4 linked regions of the Homo sapiens genome follow. The protein of the gene in region 2 purifies or fractionates together with the protein of the main gene of each other region. This does not show direct contact. Each region holds a gene or a part of one and is shown on either strand. Other genes may lie near its edges.

Region 1 (4,654 bases), on a different chromosome or scaffold from region 2:
CACCCCCCCCCGCCTCCCTCCCGGACGGGGCGGCTGGCCGGGCAGAGGGGCTCCTCACTTCCCAGTAGGGGCGGCCGGGCAGAGGAGCCCCTCACCTCCCGGACGGGGCGGCTGGCCGGGCGGGGGGCTGACCCCCCCCACCTCCCTCCCGGACGGGGTGGCTGCCGGGCGGAGACGCTCCTCACTTCCCAGACGGGGTGGTTGCCAGACGGAGGGGCTCCTCACTTCTCAGACGGGGCGGTTGCCAGGCAGAGGGTTTCCTCACTTCTCAGACGGAGCGGCCGGGCAGAGACACTCCTCACCTCCCAGACAGGGTTGCGGCCCAGCAGAGGCGCTCCTCACATCCCAGACAGGGCGGTGGGGCAGAGGTGCTCCCCACATCTCAGACGATGGGCGGCCGGGCAGAGACGCTCCTCACTTCCTAGATGGGATGGCGGCGGGGAAGAGGCGCTTCTCGCTTCCTAGATGGGATGGCGGCCGGGCAGAGACGCTCCTCACTTTCCACACTGGGCAGCCAGGCAGAGGGGCTCCTCATATCCCAGACGATGGGTGGCCAAGCAGAGACGCTCCTCACTTCCCAGACGGCGTGGCGGCCGGGCAGAGGCTGCAATCTCGGCTCTTTGGGAGGCCAAGGCAGGCGGCTGGGAGGTGGTTGTAGCAAGCCGAGATCACGCCACTGCACTCCAGCCTGGGCACCATTGAGCACTGAGTGAACGAGACTCCATCTGCAATCCCGGCACCTCGGGAGGCCGAGGCTGGCGGATCACTCGCGGTTAGGAGCTGGAGACCAGCCCGGCCAACACAGCGAAACCCCATCTCCACCAAAAAAAAAACGAAAACCAGTCAGGCGTGGCGGCGCGCGCCTGCAATCGCAGGCACTCGGCAGGCTGAGGCAGGAGAATCAGGCAGGGAGGTTGCAGTGAGCCGAGATGGCAGCAGTACCGTCCAGCTTTGGCTCGGCATGAGAGGGAGAGGGAGACGGGGAGAGGGAGAGGGAGAGGGAGACGGGGAGAGGGAGAGGGAGAGGGGTCAAATTCTTATCTATCAATGTTATGCCCACTGTGCTCTCCAGCTGTGGTCTGTGAATTACTGTGGTATAACGTGACTGTTCAAATTTCACTTTTCAGGGGCTTTGACCACGACCTTTGAAGAGCTTCATTTTGAGATCAAGCCCCACGATGACTGCACAGTAGAGCAAATCTATGAGATTTTGAAAATCTACCAACTCATGGACCACAGTAACATGGACTGCTTCATCTGCTGTATCCTCTCCCATGGAGACAAGGGCATCATCTATGGCACTGATGGACAGGAGGCCCCCATCTATGAGCTGACATCTCAGTTCACTGGTTTGAAGTGCCCTTCCCTTGCTGGAAAACCCAAAGTGTTTTTTATTCAGGCTTGTCAGGGGGATAACTACCAGAAAGGTATACCTGTTGAGACTGATTCAGAGGAGCAACCCTATTTAGAAATGGATTTATCATCACCTCAAACGAGATATATCCCGGATGAGGCTGACTTTCTGCTGGGGATGGCCACTGTGAATAACTGTGTTTCCTACCGAAACCCTGCAGAGGGAACCTGGTACATCCAGTCACTTTGCCAGAGCCTGAGAGAGCGATGTCCTCGGTAAGTTTTGCCTACTCAGCCCTCCTCACTGTTACACTACCTTCCCCCCCTACTCCATCACACTACTATCTACTCATATTCAGAGCCTATTAGAAAGTGCTATGTGATTTAGATCACATTAACAGGTCAGAGAACTGTCCAAGGGGAGTGGTTTCCGTTCAACTCTAAATGTCTAGCTGTAGATCACATAGCTGCATTTCCCAGGTCAGTTACAAAGTGGGAGAGTGGCAAGTGTTAACATCCTTAGTTTATAGATGGAAAAGCTGAGATGCTTTATTCCTTTATTCAGCACCTCAAAGGACAATCAGGGTATCACAGAGCAGGAAAGGATAGGAAAGTCATATACTCCAGCTCTCTGTCTTTAGGCCAAAACATGACTGAGCCAATTCAACTAGTTTTGGAAATCTTCCAAGAAGGCAGTAACCCAATTCAATGTTTAAACATCCTCCAACTCTGTCAAAAGTTCTATAATAGCAAACCATCCTCAAAACCTCTTGGTGCATTATGGGAGATAAATAGCAGGTTCCTTCTAGCCCTGTATTTCATGTTTTGAGTATATGAAGAGTGAGAATTTCCCGTAACTTAGATCATGAATCTAACTTAGATTTCGTAACTTAGATCATGAATCCTGCAAGGTTTCCGCGGCTAGCTACCAAGGTAGAAGAAGAGGTTGCCTAACAAAAATGCTAAGAGATCCTGGTGAGAAGAAGGTGGGAGTAGCTGCAGGAGACGTTATACTTTCACTTGCCTTAAGTTTAATTGCATCAAAGATGAATCCGCAGATGCGATGTCAATTCGAGGCAGAGAGTATTGGGGGGCATTGAAGCAATGGGGAGCCAAGTAACGTGGAGAAGAGTGAGAGACACACAGGTCAGGAGAGAAAGAAACCAACTCTAATACTGACACCGAGGTTTCTGATGGTCAAAAGAGTTCCTGAATAAACCAAAAGTAAGTTATTAAGCTCTGAGACAACCCATTTACCAGGAAAGCTGGGGTAGGTCTTGGTTTCGCACCTTATTGTTTCAAATGACTGATATTTTGAGAGAAAGAACTACAGAACTATCTCTGAGCACAGCAGAGGAGACAGTTCATCAGTTGCTTTCCCCCACAGACAGTCACAATATTATGTGATGTATTTCAGAGGCGATGATATTCTCACCATCCTGACTGAAGTGAACTATGAAGTAAGCAACAAGGATGACAAGAAAAACATGGGGAAACAGATGCCTCAGCCTACTTTCACACTAAGAAAAAAACTTGTCTTCCCTTCTGATTGATGGTGCTATTTTGTTTGTTTTGTTTTGTTTTGTTTTTTTGAGACAGAATCTCGCTCTGTCGCCCAGGCTGGAGTGCAGTGGCGTGATCTCGGCTCACCGCAAGCTCCGCCTCCCGGGTTCAGGCCATTCTCCTGCCTCAGCCTCCCGAGTAGCTGGGACTACAGGGGCCCGCCACCACACCTGGCTAATTTTTTAAAAATATTTTTAGTAGAGACAGGGTTTCACTGTGTTAGCCAGGGTGGTCTTGATCTCCTGACCTCGTGATCCACCCACCTCGGCCTCCCAAAGTGCTGGGATTACAGGCGTGAGCCACCGCGCCTGGCCGATGGTACTATTTAGATATAACACTATGTTTATTTACTAATTTTCTAGATTTTCTACTTTATTAATTGTTTTGCACTTTTTTATAAGAGCTAAAGTTAAATAGGATATTAACAACAATAACACTGTCTCCTTTCTCTTATGCTTAAGGCTTTGGGAATGTTTTTAGCTGGTGGCAATAAATACCAGACACGTACAAAATCCAGCTATGAATATAGAGGGCTTATGATTCAGATTGTTATCTATCAACTATAAGCCCACTGTTAATATTCTATTAACTTTAATTCTCTTTCAAAGCTAAATTCCACACTACCACATTAAAAAAATTAGAAAGTAGCCACGTATGGTGGCTCATGTCTATAATCCCAGCACTTTGGGAGGTTGAGGTGGGAGGATTGCTTGAACCCAAGAGGTCAAGGCTGCAGTGAGCCATGTTCACACCGCTGCACTCAAGCTTGGGTGACAGAACAAGACCCCGTCTCAAAAAAAATTTTTTTTTTAATAAAACAAAATTTGTTTGAAATCTTTTAAAAATTCAAATGATTTTTACAAGTTTTAAATAAGCTCTCCCCAAACTTGCTTTATGCCTTCTTATTGCTTTTATGATATATATATGCTTGGCTAACTATATTTGCTTTTTGCTAACAATGCTCTGGGGTCTTTTTATGCATTTGCATTTGCTCTTTCATCTCTGCTTGGATTATTTTAAATCATTAGGAATTAAGTTATCTTTAAAATTTAAGTATCTTTTTTCAAAAACATTTTTTAATAGAATAAAATATAATTTGATCTTATTGCTCCTTGGAGATTTTTTGTGTTTGGTTTTGGTTTCTGCCAATGACATCTCACAGGTGGAAAACATCTGGACTACAGACATGTTCTACTTGAGTCTCCCATGATCGGCACACACAGTTGTATTTTTAAAATTTGTTGTCAATGTTTAAAAATTAGGAGATATCACATAAAAACCAGAATAACTTCTTTTAAAAAATCATACTATCTGACAATATTGACCTCATGCTTTTGCATGGCAAAGGTCTGAGAAGCACCTTCTTCAGATGGGACAGTGCTCTGTGGGTCACTCTTCCCCATCCGCTGTGCCCCAGCCCTGCCCAAGCCCCTCTACTGAGGCTGCTGTTGGTTGCCACTTATCACTGTGCTTGGGCAATTGTTTTCCTTATGTCTAGCCCACTTCACTTATTTATGTTGCCTGCACTGTGGGTGTCTGAATTCTGGTGATGGTCCAGAGGAGGTGGTAAGAATCATCAGAAACCCTTCCTAAGTCATAGGTTAGGGAACATGATTGAGAGGTAGGGAAGTAGGGGGCATGGGTGTGAGAGAAAAATATTTTAGAGTAAAATCAACACATCATCTTTTTTTGCTACCTAAATGCCCCAGGGGACAAAGGTACACCTCCCAAATATAGT
Region 2 (8,747 bases):
GGAAAATGCCTCCGGTGTTCTGACATAGCATCATCCTTTGGTTCCCAGTTACTGAGCTTCCCACCACAGGCAAAGCAGGCTACCCTATCTCCAGGTCCTATATAATAAAAACCAGCTCTTGCCAATTCTGATGGTGACAAAAAAGTTAATGGCCACATATGGTAGGTAAGAAATCTGGCTTCTTCAGTACTCATTGCATAACTGTAGGGGTTAGTCCTCGATGAAGAGATGTCTTCAACTGCTCTAGAATTAAGAGGGTTTGGAGAAAGGCTGGAGTAAGAACCACTGAACAAGCTACTATGTTCCAAGGTGGGAGATAATGAATGTGCAAAACTGTTTCTCATTGGAGACGTATTCTTAGAGGTGGATCCCAGACTAGCTGAAACCAGATTCTGAATAAAGCTACAGCTAGGATATAGCTGTTTATGCTTTTGAATAGGACTGTCTCCTAGTTTCCAGTTATCCAGCATCAGGCCACAACAGAAGCATTTGACCTTGTCATTCACACCAGTATAATAAAAACCAGCACGAGCAAGACTCCTTTCTGAGACAGGCACCCCGGCGGGGAAAGTTGAATATGTAGACATTCTGTAGAGTTCACAGGAAAAGTCATACTTCATTTTTTGTTTGTTGCTGTTTGTCCAATCTGACAAGATCGTGCTATCTTCCATTATACTCTTAATGTTTTGATACGAGGGACCTGGGAAAAGTCTTTGGGAGGCAGTTTTGTGCATGAGTAGGTGACAGTACTGTTTGATAGCTAAAACATTCACATGAAATTTCTTCACATGAACTAAGATTTTTACCACAAAAAGAAATCAATGATAGACTCTTATGTAGAATTTACTACACTTTCTTTACTGGATTTATCTCAGTTTATATTCAGGTAGGATGAGTATCTCTCTGAATTACCAAGATACTACTTAGAACACAACTCTTTGGGGTTGTAGTAACTCTTTCAGGTAACCTAAGTGCTATTTGTTCATAATCTTGAGTAATACTAACTTAAAGCCCTGAAAGGTGGATGCACTTCTGAAAATATTAAAACTCCTTGATTTTTCACAGAGATTTATATTAACAAAATTCTAAGCAACTATAGAATACCTAAATTATGCCTTTTATTTATATTTGGTTACAAGCTATGAAGCCTGAATAACAGACCAATTACTGATTATGCCACAAGGTAAAAAATTATATGCAGGCTTCTTTCCCTATAAGCACTTTAACATGACAACCCAAAAAATCTCATTTTATTCCAATAAACAAAAGTAATTAAAACCTTCATATGGTCACACTATTTAAAAGCTAAGTTCACACAGCTTATCATCATAGTATTTACTTAAGTGGGCTAAATTACTTCAGCTGACAACTTTTGGGGGAAGTCAATACCCACAAGCTTTGTTGAACCTGTGCCTGCTATAGTGCTTGATGTCAAATGAATTTGGCTTAAAGTTCAAAAACTGTAAACTCTATCTTTGTTAAATATCATTTGTATTTGTTTCCATTTCCTGCAGCATCATGTTGACTTTCTTCCTAACTTTGTATACCACTATTATTCTTGATCAACTGAAGGTATTTTCTCCATAAACTTAGTTAGCCATAAAATTTCCACAGCACACTTTTTACACTGCATTTAAAAACTAAATAACCTGTTCATCATTTAAGGACTATTCAGCTATAATTATCAGTCATGTTGTAAACATTAATCAATTTATCACAAGATAAAACTTGTCCTTTCTAGTGTTATCAGAAACGCCTAACAAAATATTGTACTACCAAAAAAGTACTGCTTAGCATAAAGTATCAGTAATCAACTCTACTAGCCTTCTTTCTGAAAACTCTTCAATGTTTTAAAAATATAATTCATACACAAAATTACACTCCATAGAATTCAAACTATATCCCTTTATAAAGTTTCGAGATCTCCATAATGGGATTTATTACTGCAGGGGGACAAAATAGGGATAGGGAGATTCTTCAGGGTTGTAAATCTGAAAAGAAAAAACAAAAAGTATTTTAGAAAACTGTATGTGCATGCCAAATAGAACTTACATACTCTTCAATTTATTCAGTAAAGTCTAAGAATAATTCACACTTTAGATAATACATCTTAATTCCAGCAATTTGTCACAACTTTCTAAATGAAAAAGCTATTAATTAAAATAAGTAAATGCAACATACTCCCCATAGCACTAACTATACGTGTCTTTAAAACGCACAACTTCAGAGACAGATGGAAATTTTCACACAGGAAACATTTTGTCCTTGCTCTCCTCCCCTTTTCTGGCCTAAAGGTAACTCTGGCACTCTGCTGGAGGCAAAGGCACATTGGTTAAAAAGACAGACAGACACTCCACTACACCCTGTCAGCAGCAGTACAGCAGGAATTAAGACAGCAACGTTAGTTTGTAATATCAAGTCTCTCCACGACTAGGAAAACTGCAGTAAAATGCACCACGAGTTCATTAATATAAACTCTTAAACTCTGCCATTCCCTTACAATTTCAAAGCAACGACCACAGAAAGCAACTCGAAAACAAAACCTAACACAGTGGCCTGTGAAACAGTGGCTCCGGCACTACGACCACTGGCATGATTGCTTTAATTACACCCGGTCTTATATCCTATCTTTAAATGAAAGATTTTTATCTACGTGCACCGCACTGCTGCATTCTCTTTACGCAAATTGCAGCTGGGCAGGGGATAGGATGGAAGGGAAAAGAATAGAAACTATGGGATTTACCCAATAATTTCCCAGAGTTGCTTCTCACAATACACAACAGACGACTACTGGAATGACAGAGCGCAGTGGCAACTATGAAATATGAAATATCGCCGCCACCGAAATATCTTCGTTTCAATGTATTACATTAAAAGAACGCCGAGGGCTAAGTTTAAAACCTTGCAAAAACTGCGAGAAAACATCTTGGTCAAAGTCCAAGGGCCAGAAGAGTGGGCGGCGGCCAGAGGCTTGAAAACAAGTCATTTTAAAAATCGCTTTGACTGCAAGTCTCGAAGTTGGGGCTTCCGAATCCAATAAAACCTTGGCGAGAGTAGAAAGCAGAGAGCCCCCGGCGACCCTCGACCCTTGGCCGAAGGGCCTCAGGCCCCGTCCTTCCTCGTTCGCCGCCACATCAGGGAAGTGGGCCCCCGCGGGCCCTCGCGTCCCCACCCGCCCCACGCCGCCCGAGCCCGGAAGGAGCAGCACTCACCGCAGTGCGGGCGCAGCAAACACGGAAGCTGCGCGGCTGCCTAGAGGCCTCCGCAGAGCCGGGAATCAGCGGCGCCGACAAGGAGATACGGCCCGCTCGGCTCGGATCAGCCCGGGCGCTCCCGAAGCCCGCCGCCCCATCCGGGCTCACTCTGACGCACGATGACGTCAGCGCGCCCGGCCGAGGACCAGCGTTAGCCGCCGCGCGAGGGCGCCCGGGAGGCTGGGGCCGGAAAGCGGAACCGAGAGCGCTTTCCGCCGTGCGGCGATGAACCTCCGGGAAAGACGCTGGGAGGCCAGGATGCCCGGCGCAACTGGACGCTCATCGGGAGTCACGGGGTCGGCCCTCAGGGGAACGGGGACTATCCGTATCAACTCGGTGTTTGTTCGTTTTCTTCACCTTGCGGTTTGTGCCCTCTCCACATTTCCTCTCTGTGTCTACCATTCTCCTGGGGGACGTGGCAAACCGTGAGCCGCTGCGTTTGAGTTTTGGGAAACCCTGCGGAAACGCCCTGGCGCCGGTGGTTTTGCGCGTCCTACCCTGTGTCACCTCAGGGTTATGATCTGGCCCCTGGCAAGGCTCCCCAAGTGTGATGCCTCCCCCCGTCCAGATGACTGCATTTTGAGGATGGAGTCAGTCTGGTGGCATTTTTTGCTTAAGTAAACAATTGTAACCGTTTGTGTAGCATCAGCGTTCAACAGCTGCCTGTGCAAATCGAAAAAAGCGAAACTTTGGAAACTAGGAAGCATCAGATGAATAATTCTGAAGACTTGATGTCAACGGGAGTATCTTGTTTTTAAACTTTTGGTTTTCTGTTCTGGAGACAAACAGTTCATATGCACTAAAGAAAAAAGTGTCATTATTTCAGATGCTCATTGCCAGCAAAGAGAACTGTATTGCAAGTCAGGCTTCACTCCCAGTATTTTCTGAATGTTTCAATAAAATGAAATATATACGTCTGCCTGTGTATTGGTGTACATGCACATATAATTGTACATAAACCAGAGAGGAGCCCAATTTTTTTTAATGCTTAGGTAATAGAAAATTTGTAAATAAAAACCCTTGGCTTTTGCTAGTCATGGACCTTTTGTATCCCCCCGCCATACTCCCCCAATAGTGCCATAGACACAGTGTCGTGCAGTAAATGTTTGTGGTATGACAACCAACGAACGACTTTTGAAGTTGACGCTCTTTGCCCGTTGAATCCGATGCTTGCTTCTCTCTGGGGAACTCCAAGGGGCAAATATTTAAAAAACTTCCAAATAGCAAGCCACTTAATTAGGGAGCCGGGGGAATTCCAAGACCCTGAACCATTTCCCATTTCCTGTCTGTGTCATTTCTGCCTGCCAGTCAGTCACAGAACAGGAGGTCTACTGTTCCAATGTTAATAGTCAAAGAAAGTGAGTGTAACAGTTTGTAATACAGAGAAAAGAAATGCCATGGCTCCCAATGACTAAAAACTTCCAAAAATGCACCTGGGGCTTGGTAGTAGTTTAGTATTTAGTTCAAGTCACTATTTCTCGGAAGGTTTACAGAACATTCCTAACACATGTGGGAAAATATATATAGCAAGAATTGTTCATTCTGAACTCAAGATTATTTCTCTTTTTCAGTTCTTGTCCTGACCAAAGCAGTAAGATAATGAATATACTTAAGTATAGGGGAAAGCTTGCATTTCAAAAACTCAAAAGCCTTAGATATTTTTAACAAAAAATATTTGTAATATTTACATATAATAAATAGTACCTCATAACTTTTAATCTTGTATAACTTTGTAGTCTAGTGTTACAGCTAGTTAATTCAGTTACCTGTTTATTCAGTTAATTTTTTTTCATTTTGCTAGTATAAAGTTGCTGTTAATCTTAAAAAAATAAGCTATGTATGTCTGCTGCAGTTGCCCTTCTAACGTTTTTCACATTTATGTAGAAAAAAAATTTACAGTATTTAAAACAATTTTGAAGAAGAAAAGTAAGATTGGAAGGTCTTGTCCTACCAGGTAATGAGTTACAATAAAGCCATAGTAATTGAGACAGTCTTGTATTATTAAACGCCCTAAGATGGACAATTAAAGGAAGGAGATACAGAGCCCCAAGAAGAGACCCATATCTATGTATTTGGGAATTTGATATACTGGCATTATGTATTAATGAGAAAATGATTAATTACTCAATAAGTAATGCTGAATGAATGGTTATTCTAATGGAAAATAAAATTAGATCACTACCATATACTATTTAAAAATCTCTGCCGGATTTTTTTTAAAAACCCTCAAAAGTAAACAGCCATCATTATGAATCCAGGGATTTAAAGAAGTTTGGTGAGTTGTAATCCACTGTAGCTATTACCACTATTAGTGCTCAAGTTGTTTATTTTAGGCCGGTGAGAGTTTACTCAGGTTGGCTCCTGAGTCTTTCTGATACTTTCCTAGTAGTCTTTGCTTTCCAGGCTCATTTTGTGTATTTCTTACTCCATACCCATAATAAGCCATTACTCCTAAGTGCCCTGGATCCTTTAGTGGGAAATGATATTTAAAGAGCATAATCTGGATGTCTCCTTTAAGCTGGCGCTGCAAGGAACAACAAAGAAACAAACAAAAAATGTTTGTCGTGTTGTTAATGAGTTTGATTGTTTCTATACCTGTTCAATGGACAGAGCTGGTTAGTATGGGTTTGTTTTGATTTGGTTTTTGTCTTTTAAATCAAATATATTATGAACTCATTGATACTTCCGATTCAAATTCAGGAAGTCAAGGTTTTATTTAACCTCTTTGATTACACATCTGTAACTCCCTTTATTTTGAAAATCCTTGGTCTCCCCTCTACTTTTTCCTTCCTGCCCTATAAGTAATGACTTAAACACTTTTTATGATTCATTTTTTCATTTTAAAAATGTAATTATGCATGTTTATACCTACCCTTTTCTTAGATAAACAGTAGTAGCACATTTTCTCCACCTTTTTTCACTTTATAATAAATTCTAGAGATTGTATAATACTAACATATAGAGCTATTCCTCATTTCTATATAGTACTCCATTGTGTAGATGTGCCATAATATATTCAACTTGAACAATGTAATTCAGAAAGCAGCCAAAAACTGTTAGGGCCGTGTCAAAGACTAAGGAGCCAGCCTGAATAAGCTCCCCAGCCATAGATAAAATTAGTACCATAATATATTCAGCTACTTCCCTATGGATGGACATCTGGGTGGTTTCCAGCCTTTTGCTATTACAAATAGTGCTGTAATGAATAATCATGGGAACACATCTTATTTTAGGATATATTCCCAGAAGTTAGTTCAAATGGTAAATCCATACATAAATTTGCCTAATATGGCCACATACCCATCCATGAGTATGTTGGCATTTTGCAATCCAATCAGCAATGTATGTGAGTGCCTGTTTTTCCCACAGCTTCATCCGTGGAGTAAGTTGTCAGACATTTGGATTGTTGCCAACCTGTTAAATAATAAATAGTATTTCAGTTCAGTTACCATTTTTTATTGCTATATTATGAATGGGATTGAAAAACTTTTCCTATGCATCAATTGTATATGTAATGTTTTATTTATTTTTTAAGTTAGGTGAGTATAAAAGAATGTTAGGATTGGTTGTGAGGTATTGTTAAAGAAAAAAAAATTCTGACGTTTGTTAAAATGGTAAGGAAGACTTTATTCAGGACTGTGCAATCAAAACATTGTAATAGGGAAGCAAGATTGGGCTCAACTGGGAATACAGCAAGGACAGCTGGGGTATTTATAACCAACAGGTAGAGTAAGGAGGGTCAGTGGATAGAAAAGTACTAAAAGGAGACATCAGGGGTGGTAGGATTCTTGCTGAAGGCAGGCTAAGGGCTTATACTTCAGAAGTGGAGAATGAGGAACTTGATCAGATACCCAGAGTGGCGGGATCCTCACTAAACTGACAGGATTCTTATTAAGACTGAGGTAGGCCGACAATTACAGGTGGGGTAGGGCCCAAAGTCAAGGCCTAGTCAAGAAGAGGGCTCAGAAGAGGCTCAGAAGTTTGGTCAAAGAGATAGTCTTTGTCAGTATGTACACAAATGACATGCATATATTCCTGAATTTTTGAATTTTTTAAAAAATTCAAATAGGACATTAAGAACTTACAAATTTGGGTCACATCAGAACTTCCCTTTCCAACTTTTAGTCACTTGCAGGCATCCCAAGCATTATGTTTTCATCTGTTTAAAAAAAAAAAGTCACTTTATATTTCTGTGGTAAGACTTTGGGTTTTAATTTTCATAAAACCCTTCATTAGGGTTTTGGAACTAGAGAGGATCCAATAGCTCCCTTGATTTAATCAGTTTATTTTGTATATGAGCACTCAGCCAAGGTAATTGCTAAAAAGATTTTTATAGATAATATTGAGACTCTTAAAATCCAAGACAGCTTTAAAATGTTGGCATCTGTATCAAAAGTCAGGTTTTAAAAATTTACAGAAATATTATTTAAAGGCTTAATTAGTAAACCTTAATAATTTAATGTAAATTAGAATTTCAGCAACTCCAGTTTCAAAAATCAATGAATTAAAAGTTAGGAAAATAAAGGTGTTAAAGACGGCCTGAGTATATTGGGCGCATATTGTTTGCTTCTTCACGTCAGTCTGGGACCATTAGCTCAAAACTTACCTTATCTAAGCTCAAAATTTTATCCATGTAATTGCTCAAATGTAGCTCCGATGGGCCGGGTGCAGTGGCTTACGCCTGTAATCACGGCACTTTGGGAGGCCAAGGCAGGCAGATTGCCTGAGGTCAGGAGTTTGAGACCAGCCTGGCCAACATGGTGAAACCCCATCTCTACTAAAAATTACAAAAATTATCCGGGCATGGTGGTGCATGCCTGTAGTCCCAGCTACTTGGGAGGCTGAGGCAGGAGAATCTCTTCAACCCAGGAGGTGGAGGTTGCAGTGAGACATTGCACTCCAGCCTGGGATACAGAGCAACACTCCATCTCAAAGAAAAAAAAAAGTATATATATATATATATATATATATATATATATATATATATATACATACACACACACACACACACACACACACACACACATAGCTCAGATGGCCATGTTTTTAGCCATTTAGAGTCTGCCTGCTAGCCAAAGATAAAACCGTACCTGGCATCTGTTAACCAAAGATAAGACAAAGCATAGAGCTATAAAAGACCCCAAACCTCTGCTGCCCTTCCAAGTTCTCTAACTCAGAGACTCCCTATCTTATCTTGTAGCTGTACAACATCCTAGACAGATAAACCCCATTTCTGCTTCTCCCCTACCCCAGGAGTAGTTCCCTTGCCTTCTTCCCCTTCTGCATGGTGGCCATACACCTCTGCCTCTGGAAGGTGTCCAGCTGTGAGGGATGTCCTCCTTACATGCAGTCTGTCAAGCACCACCCAAATAAAGCTTGTTGCATGCTACTGCCACCTTGTGGTCACATCTCTTCTTTGATCAGCCCCAAAATCCTTGAACTCAGAAAAACCTTATGTTTAGGAGAAAATAGTCACAAGAAATACTGACAAAC
Region 3 (7,534 bases), on a different chromosome or scaffold from region 2:
GCACATGTATACCTATGTAACAAACCTGAACGTTCTACACATGTATCCCAGAACTTAAAGTATAATAAAAAAAAATTTAAAAAAGACTCTGTCTCAAAAATAAATAAATAAATAAATAGAGCCTTATAACTCACTGTAGCCTTAAGCAGTTCTCCCACCTCAGCCTCCTGAGTAGCTGGAACTACAGGTGCCTATTCACTCTTACTGCTATATGATAATCCATTATATGAATATACCACAATATATTTCTCTTTTCTCCTGTTAATGAACATTTGGATCGTTTGTAGTTTGGAGCTATTATGAATACTGCTGAGATGAACATTTTAGTACCATATTTTGGTGAACATATGCATGCATTTCTGTTTTATGGGTGTATAGCTAGGAGTAGAGTGTATACCATTGAGTGTATACCTAGGATTGGAATTTTTGGATCATAAGGTAGGTATACGTCCTAATAAATATTGCTAAACATTAAAAAAAAAAGAAAAGATCCTTACTAAACGAAAGCAATAAGACTTTGTCTTGTATGGTGGATAAACTGAGAAATTAGAATACATACTTGGAATTTGGATATTAAAGAATAAAATAATTTAGCTGGCTCTGATAATGGTGGTTATGTTAAAAGGACATATTCTATTCAATTAGAGGTGCACACTGAAATATTTATGGGTATGAAGACACAATATCTGGGATTTGCTTTCAAGTAGTCCAGGAAAAACAAAAAAGAGGATGTGATAGATGAAACAAATTGGGCAGAACGTTGGTAATTATTGAAACTGGAGGATGGCTATAGAGTGGCTCTTTATAGTACTTGTCACTTTCTTATTAAAGTTTTCTACTTTTAAAAAGTTAAAAAAAAATTATAAATATATTTTTTAAAGTGTGATTCTAAAATCTGGCTGATCATCCAGATCACCCGAGGAGCTTAAAAAAGTAGATTCTGGGAGCTGCGCAGTCCTGCTGAATCAGTCGTCTGTGAGTCCATTTGTACTGGATGGGAGGTGGGGATGAAGGCTTGCGCATGGAGGAATGTGTTATTTTTTAATTTCCTGGTTCTGGCAGCCAGCACAGCCACGCTGCCTCCTCTGCTTTGTCTGACCCAGGAGATCTTACATCAGTCTTCCTTCCTGCCTGCCTACTTCTCTCTTTCCTGTCTTTCCCTCCTCCTCCCTCTTGTTTTCTCTTTCTTCACTTTATAAAAGTTTAGGGCAGGAAGCTTAAAAGGGCCACAGGGTCCTAGCATCCCTTTCCTCTTCCCATCAGAGGAAGAGTGTCTTCATTGTCAAGCGGGGGCTTGTGCTTGAGGACTGGGCCTGGACCTCATACAGTTATTATTTATGAAAAGCTGCCTTGCTACCATGGATGAGAGATGTGTGCATTGCTCAGGTGCACCTCAAAATAAAGCTGCTTAGGAAGCACAGTCTTAATATCCAAGCCTTTCTTTTTCTTTCAGCATTCATCAATTGAAAACATCACAATCTGTTCTTAAATAATTTATTTTTTAATGTTGACTCTTGTGAAAAGTTACATTTATTTAGAAAAACTTGAAGAAATCCAACAAAGAATAGGTGGCTTTCTATTAGGGACAATTAAATGTGCAAATTTCAAATACTTTTTATAATAAGTATAAATAATTACTTTTTTTCACATTAAGAATGGAAATAATGATCAACACAAAATATTAAGATATCAACTTTAAGAGAATTAGATGAAAACACTGAAGTTTATTTGGTATCTTTGGAAAGAAATTATAAAGATTCGTCTGGGAAAAACTTAGGGGGCTCTAAGGGGAAAGTGTGCCTAATAGTATGAGTAAAGGCTGTGTAGAGTTATGGATCACAAATATTTTCAGGCCATAAGTACAGACCCCCAAAATGGCAGCCTTTATCTCTGGGGAAAATGCATTTCCCCTCCTTTTTTTTTTTTCTTCTAGAGCAAATATGACAGCAACCACAAAGCACACAGAGAAACTGTAAGCCAGCAACAGAAAGAGATTTCCTCATACTCATGGTTACTGGCTTTTGCTGTCCCAATACCAGGGTACCATGGGATGCAGGGGACTTCCCAGCCCCCCCAGGACACAGTGTTAACAGAAAATAAAACCATCACAAAAGGCCACATCTTTCCCTGTGACCATTGCCAGTCTCATCCCTGCTCCTTCCCTATCTCATCTCCAAGGAGGTAGGACACTCAGAGGCATTAACAGAACACAGAGTATAGTTTTTTATTACATAGCTGGAGTTTCATAAGGAGAAGCACGAAACATCGATGAATATGTATGTATACCTTGGATGCAATTCCTTCTTTCCTGGGGAGGCAAGCAAAAGTGTATCAAAGAGGCCAATTTACTCCCTGTGGTCAGGAACTTGCCCACAGCCTGACTCAAAGCAAGGATGTTCTCTCAGGAGAACACTGTGGCATTTTCCCCAGAGCTGAAGAAATATCTTCACTTAAATAATCTTGAAGTTTGTAATAAAATAAATAAAGTGAATTACACAAAAAGGACTAGAGCTCCCTTTAAAAAGGCAGCTGGTTGAGTTTATGCAAGCAGTGTATACACAAGCTCATGCCCCAACAACAACCAGAAAACAGGTTATTATTATTTAGCCTTCCTATTGTACTTCTAGGGCAGCATTTCAATATAATTTAAAAAAATCCCTCATACATAATGTAAGGGTATATTATATATGTACACACTTTTACTCCTCAGTTCAAGCTAACTTCTTTAGAAGTAAAGACAGTAATAACCCAAAGAGTTACACGTCTTCCCAGTAAAATATTCTAATTTTTTAAAAGGTGCATATTATAAAGAGCAGCTTGTTTTTCTGTCAATGTGAACATGTTCAGTCTCAGCAGCCTCAGAATCACAGTCCATGGATGGTTCTGCATTTCTGCCGGGTCCTCAGGAAAGGAACCGGGCAGGTAGGGAAAAACCATGAACTACAAACACTCTCTGAATACGTCCATTTTCCCTGAGCTTCCTTGAGCTTCTTGCAGAGGGCCTCGCTGCCATGAGGATCTGGCTTCACATCTCTGAGAGATGCTGGGGGAGGGGAGGTGGAATGGCTCTGGCTTCTCCAACCCACGCGACTTGTGTGTCTTTTCCCTTTCTCAGCCAAGACGATGAAGCAGTCCTGATGCGCAGGGTGCAGGGGCCTCGGCCAGTCCCCGCACACCTTCCAAGTCCAAAGAAGTTCCTGGCCTCCTGCTTGGTAGGAGAGGAGGAACCTTGGGCTGAATCTGACATCATCCCTTGCCAGTTACAAGCTTTGCTTTCTAAGGCCACCTGGGAACACTCCCGGGTTACCAAACCTGAGCATCGTGGGCACCACGAAGAGCTTATCTTTCCTCTCCTGCTCAGACACCCTTAAGCCCACTGTTGCAGTGGCAGCTGAGGGGTTCAGAGGATAGCACCATGATGACTGACAGCTCGAGGCCCCACTTCTTGCAGGAGGTGACCCACCTGTTTCCGGTTAGCCATACATCTGCTTGAACTGAAAGCATTCGTTGCAGTAGCCGTTGCACTTGGCATTGCCAAAATGATCACAGGCGGGGGCCCGGCAACGCTGCTTGGGGGGGTCTTCGGGGGCAGGCTCACCCCGGTGGGCCCCAGGGCCCATCCTCTGGTTGGGATGCTGACACTCCATGCAGAGCTCCTCGCTGCGGCAGGCCAGGATGTTCTTGCAGGAGGCCCGGGCGCACTTGGGCCTTGAGGTGCTTTGTGTGGTTCGAGGCACATCTCTGCGCTGGCTCGATCTCTGAGTGGAAAGAACAGGCAGATCATTAAAAAGTCAGGAAACTATTGCTCACATTTCTTAGGGAGAGCACAATGAAATCTCATTGGAGAGTGTGGAGTCTACAAAGAGCTTTACCTGCCTGAGCAAGGGAACAGGAGAGCATTGCAGTCTATGAGCCAGAGCTCTCGAAGGATGTTTCTTTCCAGTCTCAAGGAAAGCTGACTTGGCCCCCAGGGAGGCTGAGGAAAACCGCCAAGCCTAAGTTGGCCTGCAAACTTTCCCTGGCTCTCTTCTGTTGGGACCAAAAACCACTGTTCTTACATAGCTTCCCTACCATTCTGTGAGCAACAGGCGACACACCTATCTGTCAAAGCTGGCTTTTCTGACGCGCCATTAGGTGGAGGCAGGCCCCTGGGAAGCTCTGTCTGTTCGCTCCTTATGATAAAGGATTATTTAAGAAGGGCTGCTTTTTAGATGTCTGTGCTTCTCTTACAAATCAAAGAAGCCTCTGATCACCATCTGGCTTTTTGGAGGCTTGAAGAAGTTTTATGCAATGGCTGTGTTTCTTTGTTTTTAAAATAAATTTGAAAGCATACTTGGAGCATGAAAATTGGAGGTAGCATTTCGGACCTGGGGAGCCACAGTGACATGGACATTCCCCTTCAGGTTCTGAATTAATCCTTTATCATGAGGAGACAGAACCTGGCAGAGAGGAAAGCCTGCTTGTCACTGTCGGTAGAAAACGCTCCAGCAAAAAGCATCGAACACACGGGAGGGAGGGAAAGCTCCTCCAAGTGTCTCACCAGTTGCTCTTCTGTCCTTTTGGCCTCATGAAATCTCTGATTCTGAGCTTCAATGAAACACTTCTGGCAGTATCCTTCAAACATGGTGCTTCCAAGGGTGCCGCATTCCCTCCCCAGGCACGGAATGGTGTTCTGGAACCTGGACGCTGTGGGACTGACTTTCCCTGAGGCAGCAGCAAAATCTACATGAGAATGGATGCTAGTTAGTACCACATAGGGGTCACCCCACCGATACAGAGATGCTGACAGTAGAGAAATAAATGGGTTCCAAATACAGATTAGGCCAGCCTTAAATGTATAGAAATATATATATGTATATGTTTAAGTCTATAAATTCAGCAAAAGAAATAACATCCCTATTATGGAAACATCTTTGGCTTTACCAATCTCTCATTTTGAACTTGAAGCACTGATTGCTCACAGGAACAGGCAAGGAGCAGGCATTACCTGATCACCCTTCTTTCCAATGAGAGATTTCCAAACCACATCTGTTTCCTTACAGTGTCAACAGAGACTTCCTTCTCTCCAGTTACTACTCTTCAGATTTTAAGATTGTTCTGTTATATCTAAGTTGCAAAATAAGTCTAGTTTAAACTTAGACTCTCTTAGATATGCCAGACCTGAATGGTCTAGTAAAAGCACATCCCATGAGCTCTGTCTACAGGGCACTCTGGTTTTTGGAATGTGATATTAGGAGCTGCTGTAATCACGCAGTGCCTTTTGCCTCCATGGGCGGCTGGCAGGGCCACCGTGACTGTCCCCTGCACAAGCTGGTAGAAAAGCACGGTAGGTCCTGACAGTTCTGCCTGACTGCCTACATGGGCTTTTTTTCTTAAAGGTCAGGAACAAAACCCCTTCTGGACAGCAGCCGCTGTGTTAGGAAGTCAACCACTTCACTCACGTTTGTTTTCTCTGTACTCGATGAAACACAGTGTGCAAAAGCCCTTGTTTTCTGGAGTCCCAAAATACACGCAGCCGGCTTTTCTGCACTTGCTCGTCCCCGTCCTGTCCCCAGGAGTCCGTGCAGCTTGAGACAGGCAGCCAGCAGGGGCGTCGTTTCCAGCTCTGTGGCAAGAATGCGGGGAGGGGCTCCGGACGAGCCGCGAGGGATCTGACTTGGAACGCTGGTGACAGGAAGGAGGGAGGCTGGTGCTGAGGCTGGAGGAGGCCTCTGCTGTAGTCCTTTTGAAGCAAGTACTGCAGATCCCATTAAATGTCCTGGTAACATCCTGGAGGCAGGCTTGGCACTTCCCGGGATCCAAGTGCCTTGTGTGGTCTGGGGCGTGGCTGGCGTGAAGTTGCCGGGCGTTGTGGCAACGTTCACAAAATCCGTTGTGCTGCACATTCAGTGTGAAGGGGCAGCCGGGGCTCCTGCACTTCATGGCAGTGGTCTCACTGAACAGAAAAGGGCTGGGTGCTGTCGGTGGGGCCGAATGAGGCCCCCCAGTGGACTCCTCAGGGTTCCACGCCAAGGGCTCATAGGCTTCTCCCCGAGAGGCCCCGAGCGCCATGCCAGGGAGCCCCTCAGGGCCCGGCTTGGAGTTCAGCTTTGGGAGTTTGTTTTGATTCTTTTGCCGCCTCTCTGAGCACTCATGGCATAAAGGCTGGGTGTTCACAGACATGAAGAAGGGGCAGTTGGGCGTTTCACATTTTACATCCATGAGAGAAAGCTGGGGCACGGAAGGTTCCATGGGATTCTGGGCGTGCCCCTCTCTCCTCCCCTGCTCGCTGTTTTCCTGCCATTTCTTGTACTCATGCTGAACAAGTTCAAAGTAATCATCTACCAGATTGATTTCTTTTGGTAAGTTAGCTTCATCCAACCTGAAGACCAAAAGGAAAAAATATGTATGAGAATACACAAAATCACACACAAGATTTTACATCATTAGCTCATAGAACAAAGTTTTAGAATGTGGATTATGGCAAGAATTGTAGAACCATTCACTGAAATGCAGGCCTGTGATGAAGAGCTCACACTTTTCACGCAACATGATCTGACACATTTCCCAACATGTTCGAGTCAAGAATGATGTCAGTTAGTTTGCTAAGACTTCCTTATTTTTAAAATCACAGTTTCATTTAATCAATCTTGGTCCATCCAAAAATTATAGATAGTTCTAAAACAAGGGCTAAGAAAAATCAGTTGACTTTCCAATTTCTCAGAGATCAAATTCTGAGTAAAATATTACTGAGGCCATTGGTTTGGGACTAGTCTACTTTATAGTACAAACTACTTTGGAACCTCAGGTTGGGTATTTTGCTGTTACTAACTTTAAACTTGTGTCTAGTCTCCACCAGCATTAGCAGCCATGAGTAACTAAGACGCAGACACACTCAAAGGCGCTTGTCTATTTACTGTTGACTCTGTAATTTGCTAATCTCCACATTGAGAGACAGATTCTCTTACGGCTTCCTTGTCATCTGTTGTGCGTTTCAAGTGCTCAGAAACAGGCATCTCTTTAACATAAAGCCAATGTTTAAAGACCGGATACCTGCACAATGGGTATTCTGGGGCTTTCCTCCCATTTCCATGTGGCAGAATCATGAGCTGCAACATAAACAATTCTACAGCTCCATCTATGTCTGATGTGCCTGTTCTTACCAAGAAGCCAAGAGAGAAAGGCTTTTGTTTCCAAGTGTTTTCACTAGTCTTTTTAATATGTACCAGAGTAATTAAAATACAAAAACAAGAAACAACAACTATCCTTGATGTAAATGCACTTTGAAAACCCATAATTCTGCAATTCTGACTTTTGGGATCCAGATATCCAGGAAAATCATTATGGATAAATGACATGTTTTGATTTGAAACCCAAGTTAGTACTGCCTTACATAATCCTCTCTAACCATGCACAAGACTCTGAATTTGTTTCCCATTGGCAGAAACTGGCCGCAAATCACTCTACTGTTGAGCTTCAGGGTGGCAGCAACTCAGGTGGCTGAGGTTAAAGACAGTTACAGATGACACAGGAGAGAGCTGAACATAAACTGCTT
Region 4 (8,964 bases), on a different chromosome or scaffold from region 2:
GTCAGTTCATCTTGCGAGGCCTCCCCCTGTGATCTCTCGGTCCTCTCCGCATTCCTGGGTTGCCTCACACCTGGGTTATTGCAAGTGTCTTCTAGCCTCTCTCCTGCTCCCATCCGTCCTACACACTTTTTAAATCTTCATTCAGGCTTTAACTTGCACGCACAAGTGTGTGAACCTTCCTCTCCATCTCCAGGGCCTGGCTCCAAACAGCATTTCCATGGTCATGGAAATGATCTGAAGACTTCCACAGATGCCTCACTACTTTTTTTTTTTTTTTTTTGAAACAGGGTCTCACTCTGTCACCCAGGGTGAAGTGCAGTGGCACAATCATAGCTCACTGCAACCTTCACCACCAGGACGGAATGTAGTGGTGTGGTCAGGGCTCACTACAACCTCCACCTCCTGGGCCCAAGCCGTCCTCCCGAGCTCAGTCTCCCGAATAGCTGGGATGACAAGCACGCCCCACCATGCCCCGCTAATCTTTGTATTTTTTGTAGAGACAGGGTTTTGCTGTGTTGCCCAGGCTGGTCTCGAACTCCTGGACTCAAGCAATCCACACACCTCGGCCTCCTGAAGTGCTGGAATTACAGGCATGAACCACAGCACCCATCTGAGATGCCTCACCTCACTTCTAATCACAGTCTGGGCACAGAATGTGCCCTAGGAGAACAGCTTCTGAATAAACGAATGAATGAATTCCTCCACCTGGAACCATATTCAACACTCTTCCTCCATCCTCTCCCCCACTCCCTCTAATTCTCCCATTCACATTTCTTAGTGTTTCTCAACATGGTTTTTCCACTCCCGAACCAAGGTGTCTGGCTTCCTGCCACCCTGCCCATCAACACAAAATCCCATCTCTCCATTCCTCTCCTCTTCCTCACATCAGTATCCAACTCTGCTTCCCTCCTTTATAGCTACCCTGACAGGCAGTGACTTCAGATGTCAGCTCCACATCCACTTTTCTATGAGGCTTTCCCTCCGCCATCCCATCTGACACATCTCTTGTTCCTTAATTCCTTCAGCAAATAGTTAAGGGGCACAGTTAATGTGACAGGTCCCGTATGGGTGCTAGGGATGCTGAGGTGGATAATACACAGCTCGTGCTCTCAAGAGCTCTCACTTGAGTCAAAGACAGTCAGTTGTAGGCACTGAGATCTATACAGGGAGTGCTGCAGTTGCACAGTGAAGGACACTGAAGCAGCGTGGGGAAGCTCCTGAATTTTCTGGAGCTGAGCGCAGGAGCTGAGACCTGCTAAGCAAGGAAAGGCAGTGGACTAAGGCTCACCTCCTTCCCCAGTTCCTCCTCCTCCCAACTGGTGCTCCAGGACACCACATCACAATGCATTTGTGGATATTTTCCTCGGGATTGCTCTGAAATCATTTTTCACTGTAAGCCATCTTGGTTACTAGGCTGTAAGCTCTTTGAGAGCAGCAAAATCCTGTTTGCTTTGCCACAGTCTCTCCTGTATCATTCTTCCCTACTCCCCTACCCCACTTCTCTCTCTCTCTCTCTCTCTCTCTCACACACACACACACACACACACACACACACACACTGTGAGCTCTGCATTGCCCACTGAATGGTGAGAAATTCAGAAGGATGTTGCATTCCCTTTGTTTTCCCTTTCCTCCAGCTCCAGGCCAGGCTTCTGTCCCTTAGGAGACATAATCCCACCTGGGCTGAAGCACCCCAGGACGCAGGCACTTCCCTTTACCTGTTCAGGCTACCTTTACCCTCTGTTTTCCCAACACAGGTAGCCACCCAGTAATTACTACTAGTCACAGCAATATAAAAACTTTATTGAGTGCTTTCTATTTGCTACAACCTATTCCCCTGATGGACTGTCAAAGCTGTGGGCAGGGATTTTGTTCTCTGCTGTAATCCCAGCACCTATCACAGTGTCTAGCCCAGAGCGCACACTTAATAAATCAAATGAACACTTAACATGTATCAGTCTATTCAATCTTCAAAACAACAGTATGAGGTCAAGACTGTGACACCCATTTTGGAGATAAAGAAACGAAGGCATGGAAGGTTAGGTTATATAAGCTGCTCTTGTTCATGCAGGAGGTATGTGAGGGAGCCAGGGGCCGCCCCCAAACAGAAAACAGAAGCAGGATGTCAGGGCAGCTGGCTGGTGGGGAGACCGTGGGGGAAGGACAGTGGGAAGAAGGGAAGAGCGGGTGGGACTAAGGAGGCAGGAGGAGGCAGAAGAAGAAGAGTGAGACCCTGACCAGAGACGTGCTGCCTGGGGACCTGGGGCCGGGACCAGAGCGGAGCAGAGAGGAGGGGAAGGAGGATTAGCGAGAAAAGATTTCAAAAAAAGAGGCTCTGAGAAGTCTGAGGAGAGTCTGGGGAGATTGCTGGAAGAAAGGAATGGTAGGAGAGGAAGAGTATAAGGCACTAAAGAGAGGGGAGGTAGGCGCAGCCTTCAGAGGCCGGGCAGGGCAGGGAAAATCTGCCTGACTAGATGGGCCCAGGACATCTGAACAGGATGATTCCCGGACCAAGACGTGGAGGACGATCAAGGATACATTGAAACAAGGCTGAGGCCAGAGAAAGGGACATTTTCCAGTGACGAAAACAACTTTCTACCAACTTCCCCAAACTGAACTGTAGAATAAGAAACCAAGGGATTGTTGTTTAGGTCTGTGAGAAGCAGCGGGGAGGGGAAGCTGGAGGACAGGCCCAGGGACACTGACCAGGTGGGGGTAGGACTAGCTCCCTGGGAAGGCTCAGTCCCACAGCGGCTACCTGCCTAGCAGCAGGCAAAAGGGTAAAGAATGTCCCCAGGTGAGAGGCCGGGGCTTGGCCAGGGCACTGGGGACACTGTCCACTGGGTTGCCCTGCCCCATCCAGTGTCCCAGCCCATTCTCAAATACCTCCCACCATGAGCATCCCAAACCCACCACACCAGCCCATCCCCACTCCTCAACTCACTCCCCCACTTCACCAGCCGCCAAAATCCTGCCCTACAGGGTGTGCTCCACCAAGTTCCACAGGCAGCCTCGCCTCCCCACGGCCCAACACCCTCCAGGCCAGCCAGCTGACCGGAGGGACAGAATTCAGAACCGTCTGGACTCCCCGAGCACTAATCTTCCTACTCCCACTCCCTTCTTTTCCCCGCCAAATCTGCCCCACCCTGGGCCTATCTCCTGCCCACATTCCCTTGGCCGCCCACAAACTTCCACCGCTGTCAGGGGCCAGGGCTTCCTTTTACTCTCTCCCTTTCAAACTTCTCCCATTCCCCTGCCTCAGCGCAGCCCCTACTCCAAAAGGCGGATGAATGGGGAACCCCACACTGGCAGTGGCTGAGGTTAGGACCTGCAGGCCTGAGGCTGGCGCCAGGACCAGGCCCGGGCAGGAGAGGCTCGGCCCCCTCCCGGAGAGGGCCCACGCCAGCCGGAAGGTGCCTCGCCCACCAGCCCACTCTTCCCTTTGTCCCTGGTCTCACCAGTGGCAGCAGCAGGTCAGGCACGGTGGAGAGGCCCATGCCAGACAGCTATGGCCTCTCACTCCCCCATTTGGGCTCAGGGCAGTGTGGCAGCGGCAGTGCTGGGGCTTCCCGGGACTCGGTCTGTCCAGGACGTCCCAAGTGCCTTGGGGTGACAGTTGAGGGTTGAGACTCGGGCATAGAGATCACGGCCTGGTCCCAGTGATCTTGAACCCCAAAGGCCAGAACTGGAGCCTCAGTCCAGAGAATTCTGAGAAAATTAAAGCAGAGAGGAGGGGAGAGAAGGTGGGAGGGGAAGAGTGAGGCAGTGTTGCAACAGCGGGACAGGAAGAGCTGGAGGAGGAGGCCACAGGAGGCGGGAGGAGGAGGCCCAACGTTCTTTAACTCTTTGTAGTCCAGTCACAAGCACAGGAGTCCCAGATCTGGCTGCCTTGTGCCCCCAACCCACCAATCCGACCACTCCCAACCAAACACCAAGGGGCAATAAGCCCCTTGCCCACATCACTAGCCTTTCCCAGATGGATCACAGCAGTGAAAAGATCCAGAGTCTGGGAGTCAAATTCTCTGGGTTCCAATTCAGAATGCTTAGCTTTTTAGCTAAGAATGTGTCTTGGACACATAAATGAACTTCTCAGACACATAACTGAAACTGTCTGGATCTGTTTTCCAATTTGCAGAGTGGAGATAACCTGTCTCCTGGGGTTCCTGTAAGGATTTGTTCAGATGGGAGAGATATAGATAAGCGTCCGACACATGATAGGTACTCCATGTCCCTTAGTAATCCTCCCCTTTACTCCAGAGTTCTTCACTAGCCTCCTAGTCTCCCTCTTTCTTGGGAATTTACTGATCCAATCCAAAACTCAAAGTAAGTCCCAACCCTCGTTTTCTGCCCTGACTGGGTGCCTGCCATTCCTCACCCCAGGTCTCATCCAGTCTCTGCCTGGCCAGGTCCCCCCACCCTGCCCCACTGTTGATCCTGGCTCTGCCACCAATCATGCGACATCAGGCAACTCCTCTCCTAAGCCTCTGTTGGTTCCTTGTTTATTAAACAGGGGTAACAATGTCTGCCCACCTACATGGGGAAAGTGATGCCATGAGAATCAATGAGACGTATCCACGAAGCTGCCGTGGAAATAAAGATACCTCCATCAGGTGTTCCTAGCATATTCCCAGTGCCCTTTTCCTAAATATTCCAATACATCAATTATAACTCACCTTACAGATCATCGACTACAACCCCCTAGGTTTTTTTATTTCTTCGTTTGCTTGTTTTTCATTTTTGTTTTTGTTTTGAGGGTCCGCTCCGTTTCCCAGGCTGGAGTGCAGTGGTACCATCGCAGCTCACTGCAGCCTCGACCTCCCAGGTTCAAGTAATCCTCCCACCTCAGCCTCCCAAGCAGCTGGGACTATAGGTGCATACCACCACGCCTGGGTAATTTTTGTATTTTTTGTAGAGACAGGGTCTCACCATGTTACACAGGCAGGTCTTGAACTCCTGGGCCCAAATGATCTGCCCACCTCAGCCTCCTAAAGTGCTAGGATTACAGGTGTGAGCCACCGTGCCCACCCAACTGCCCGGTTTTATAGAGGAGAAAACTGAGGTCCAGAAACCCAATGTGCCAGGAGGCAGAGCCAACAGAGAACCCCAGACTCCCGACTGCCGGTCCAAGGGCCCCTTTGGCTATGAGAGACACACTGCCACTTTTTCTGTCACTGAGTCAGACCCCACATCCTGACTCTGGTTACTTTATGCCATCCTCATTGATGCAGACATCTCCCAAGAGAATCCTACAACAAAGGTACCACATTTACCCAACTATCTTCTTGGTACAATGACCTTCCCTACATCCAGCCCCGCCCAAGGGCCTGCAGCTGCTGAGGCTGCTAGAAATGCAGGCAGACAGAGAAGAGGGAGGTCCTAGGGCTTTGGAACTTGAAACCAGAGCTCCTCACCCCTTATCCCTCTGAGATGACCTCCCAGCCCCAAGTCCACCGTCCCCTGGCTCTTCCTGGCTTCCCCTCTGTGATCCGCAGATGAGAATGGAGCTTCAGTGTCCCTCACTGCGGGGGGAGCTGACTTTACTCCACCCCATCGTCCAGCTTCTGGAGAACTGTAGGGTTGAAGCTGGATTCAGAAAGGAAGCAGCTCACCACCATCACAAAGGGAGACCCCAGGGACAGGAGAAGCGAACCCAAAGCAGTGTTCTTGAAGAAGCAGGAGCCTCAGAATCAAGTGCAAGTTTCCAGTATGAAGCAGCGAGAAGAACCTCGGTCTGCTCATCTAAAAAATGGGAAACCTGCTGGTACCCTTCACAGAGCTAGCTTGATGCTTAAATCAAGCATATAAAGTGTTTGGCAAGTGTTTGCCATATATTAAGCATTTAGTAAGTGGTAGCAATTAATTTTTTTTTTGAAACAGGAGCTTGCTCTCACCCAGGCTAAAGTGCAATGGTGCAATCATAGCTCACCTAACCTAGAACTACTGGCCTCAAGCTAGCCTCCCACATCAGCCTTCCGAGTGGCTAAGACTACCATCGCACACCACTATGCCCAGCTAGTTGTATTAATGATTAATAACAACTTCAGAAGGATAAGTGATACAGGGGAGTATGGTATGTGAGAGGGCGGCAAAAAAAAAAAAAAAAAGCAGAGTGCGGTGGCTCACGCCTGCAATCCCAGCACTTTGGGAGGCTGAGGTGGGCGGATCACAAGGTCAGGAGTTCGAGACCAACCTGACCAACATGGTGAAACCCTGTCTCTACTAAATATACAAAATTAGCCAGGCGTGGTGGCGCGTGCCTGTAATCCCAGCTACTCAGGAGGCTGAGGCAGGAGAATTGCTTGAACCCAGGAGGCAGAGGTTGCAGTGAGCCGAGATCCTGCCAGTGCACTCCAGCCTGGGTGACAGAGCGAGACTCTGTATCAAAAAAAGAAACCAACTTCAATGTCCTATTTTTTTTTTTGATAGAGTTTCACTCTTGTTGCCCAGGCTGAAGTGCAGTGGCACAATCTCGGCTCACTGCAACCTCTGACTCCCGGATTCAAGCAATTCTCCTGCCTCAGCCTCCCGAGTAGCTAGGATTATAGGCATGTGCCATCATGCCCGGCTAATTTTTTGTATTTAGTAGAGACGGGGTTTCACCGTGTTAGCCAGGCTGGTCTCAAACTCCTGACTTCAGGTGATCCACCCACCCTGGCCTCCCAAAGTGCTGGGATTACAGGCATGAGCCACCACGCCCGGCCTCAATGTCCTATTTTTAATGTTATAAGGTATTTCTAATAGTCTGTGCAAAGCGCCAAAGCCGTGACACATAGCCTGGTACAAAAGGAGAATATTTTTCAATATTTAGGATACATGCTTATTTACTCAATAACTTTACAACTTTGACACGTCATATTACATTTTTCAATAAAATTTTGTTTAAAAAAAAAGATGATGAGAAGTGAGTGGATCTAGGAATATGAAAAGCTAACACGTTTCGTGGAGGAGGTGAGAATGAGACCATCATCCCTCCAGGGACAGAAAAAAATCATGGTCAGAGGAGATGGAGAAACAGGAGAGGGGCAGACTAGGGATGACAGAATCGGCTGTTAGGGCTTGTAGAGCAAAGGATGAAGAAAACAGCTACAGAGAGCAGGGACCTTCCTCCCGCATCATGGCACACACACACACACACACATGCTTAACCCAAAGGGTCACTGGACTCCAAGTCCAGATGACGTGGGTTCTAGCCCCAGACCTGCCATTCAGACTCTATGTGTCACAGGGTGGCAGGGTGAGTCATAGAAAGGGAGCTGGGTTCATGGCAGGTTCTCTAAGAATTATGAAGCTCAGCAAGTCACTTCAACTACTAAGCCTGATAAGGAAAATGAGTCAACTTGAACCCTTTTATCGCTAACAGCCTGATTCCAACTCCTAACCCCAGGGTCCAGGAGTAACCCATAGACAAGTGAATGGAGATAAGGAGACAGCTCTGGGGAAAAAAGCAGGAGGCAAGAGAAGCAGGAGCCTGGGGGAGCTGACTGCAGTCATCCGTAATACATCTGGCTATGTCCGGCAGGTCCTCCTGCCCCAGCCAGAGGAGAGGGCACTGGGGACCAGGTGGGCCAAGGCTGAGGCTGAGGGGGCAGACAAGTGCCGTCTGCACCTGAGGGCTCTGACAGAGGAGACTGCAACACCATTTCCCCTTCATCAGCTCAAGTCCAGGAAAGGGAAGTCAGCAGTCGTCACACCGTTTCAGGTCATGACCCTGTCTACCTTCCTACCCCTGTCACCAGCTCCTTCTCCTCTTTCCCCGAAAGTCTCTTCCTCCTTTGGCTCCTCAGAACAGGGAGACTGCAATTAAGATGAATAAGACTAAGGTGGCAGGGACAGAATCCCCAAAGATGGTGAGAAAGGGTCACTTCTGGATTCCAGGTCTTATGCTGGAGTGGGGGAGAAACAAGGATCGGAGAGCTGGAGTTCCACTCGCACATCCTTCAGCCCCTCCCTGGACCTCAGTCTCTCCTTTACTAAAGCTGGGAGGATTCCCTGTGCCCCTCTCTGCAATCATGTACCAATAAGACCATATAAGGCTTTGCATTTCCAGGAGAAACTGGCCTGAGCCTCATCATCCTCCACCACCACCAGACAGCTGATGGGAGGCAGGCAGATGAGGGTTCATTGCCGCCAGGTGGTAAGTGGGACTCAGCAAGTGGAGTGGGGGATGGGGAGGTTAGTGATGATGGTGACTAAAGCAGAGAAGGAAAAGGAGGTTCAGACAGTGGAGAGGGCAAGTCTCCCCAAACACTGTGAGGTAGGTCCCCTGAAGGGGTGGCATCATGTCTTCCCCCTTCCACCCTAACATGGCCATGGGCACATAGCAGACGCTCAGCAACACCCATGGAGGAATTCACCAGAACGTTTGTCCCTCTTAAGACCCCGTGAAGAATGGTCACTTCCATGGTGCAGCCAAGGGGCATGGGAGTCTGTACCCTCTCCCAGCCCCAGGACCTCCCAGAAGCTTGGGTGATGACTTGTATCCACCCCCTACCCTCTTCATGATGCCCCATCCAGCTCTCCAGACATTCCTTCATGCAACAAACATTTATTGAGCTCCTGCCTACTTGCTCCAAGCAGGATGATGGGCTAGACATGGAGCATACATAAACGGGCAAGATTCAGTCCCTGACCGCAAGGCACTTACAGTCTAGTTGGGAAGGGAGACACAAATGTACAAGAAAGTATGGTGCAACAGCAACACTCCAGCAGATGTTATAGTGTGCTACGGGAGCCCAGGAGAAGGCGGAGTGATCAATTTTGGGGAAGACAAGATGTGGCAGAAGCGTTCACAAAAGTAATGGTGTCTGAGCAGGGTTCTAAGGGATGCATAGGAGTTCTCTGGCAGATGGTTGGGGAAACTTTCAGGCTGAGGAAATATCTCAAGCAGACATGTAGAGGTATGAAAGACACAGGGCAGAGGTGCCGGGGCATGGCTCTGTGAGGGCACGGGTATGAGGCTAGAGG

The links.
Region 1: the proteins of BIRC2 (region 2) and CASP8 purify together in Homo sapiens (affinity purification with western blotting; 4 studies listed by BioGRID and IntAct, with this or other methods). This does not show direct contact.
Region 3: the proteins of BIRC2 (region 2) and TNFAIP3 purify together in Homo sapiens (affinity purification with mass spectrometry; 5 studies listed by BioGRID and IntAct, with this or other methods). This does not show direct contact.
Region 4: the proteins of BIRC2 (region 2) and TNFRSF1A purify together in Homo sapiens (affinity purification with western blotting; 9 studies listed by BioGRID and IntAct, with this or other methods). This does not show direct contact.

What each region holds. Positions count from the first base shown.
Region 1 is NC_000002.12:201,283,689-201,288,342, forward strand, and holds the end of CASP8 (caspase-8 isoform 2 precursor), read left to right. Parts: intron 1-1,127; coding exon 1,128-1,629; intron 1,630-2,770; coding exon 2,771-2,906; 3' UTR 2,907-4,021; downstream 4,022-4,654. UniProt on the Homo sapiens protein: Thiol protease that plays a key role in programmed cell death by acting as a molecular switch for apoptosis, necroptosis and pyroptosis, and is required to prevent tissue damage during embryonic development and adulthood.
Region 2 is NC_000011.10:102,341,842-102,350,588, reverse strand, and holds the start of BIRC2 (baculoviral IAP repeat-containing protein 2), read right to left. Parts: upstream 3,376-8,747; 5' UTR 3,213-3,375; exon of another isoform or gene 2,744-3,212; intron 1,992-2,743; 5' UTR 735-1,991; coding exon 1-734. UniProt on the Homo sapiens protein: Multi-functional protein which regulates not only caspases and apoptosis, but also modulates inflammatory signaling and immunity, mitogenic kinase signaling, and cell proliferation, as well as cell invasion and metastasis.
Region 3 is NC_000006.12:137,877,259-137,884,792, reverse strand, and holds the end of TNFAIP3 (tumor necrosis factor alpha-induced protein 3), read right to left. Parts: intron 6,362-7,534; coding exon 5,442-6,361; intron 4,723-5,441; coding exon 4,541-4,722; intron 3,759-4,540; coding exon 3,474-3,758; 3' UTR 1,481-3,473; downstream 1-1,480. UniProt on the Homo sapiens protein: Ubiquitin-editing enzyme that contains both ubiquitin ligase and deubiquitinase activities.
Region 4 is NC_000012.12:6,338,318-6,347,281, forward strand, and holds the start of TNFRSF1A (tumor necrosis factor receptor superfamily member 1A isoform 1 precursor), read right to left. Parts: upstream 3,760-8,964; 5' UTR 3,498-3,759; coding exon 3,459-3,497; intron 1-3,458.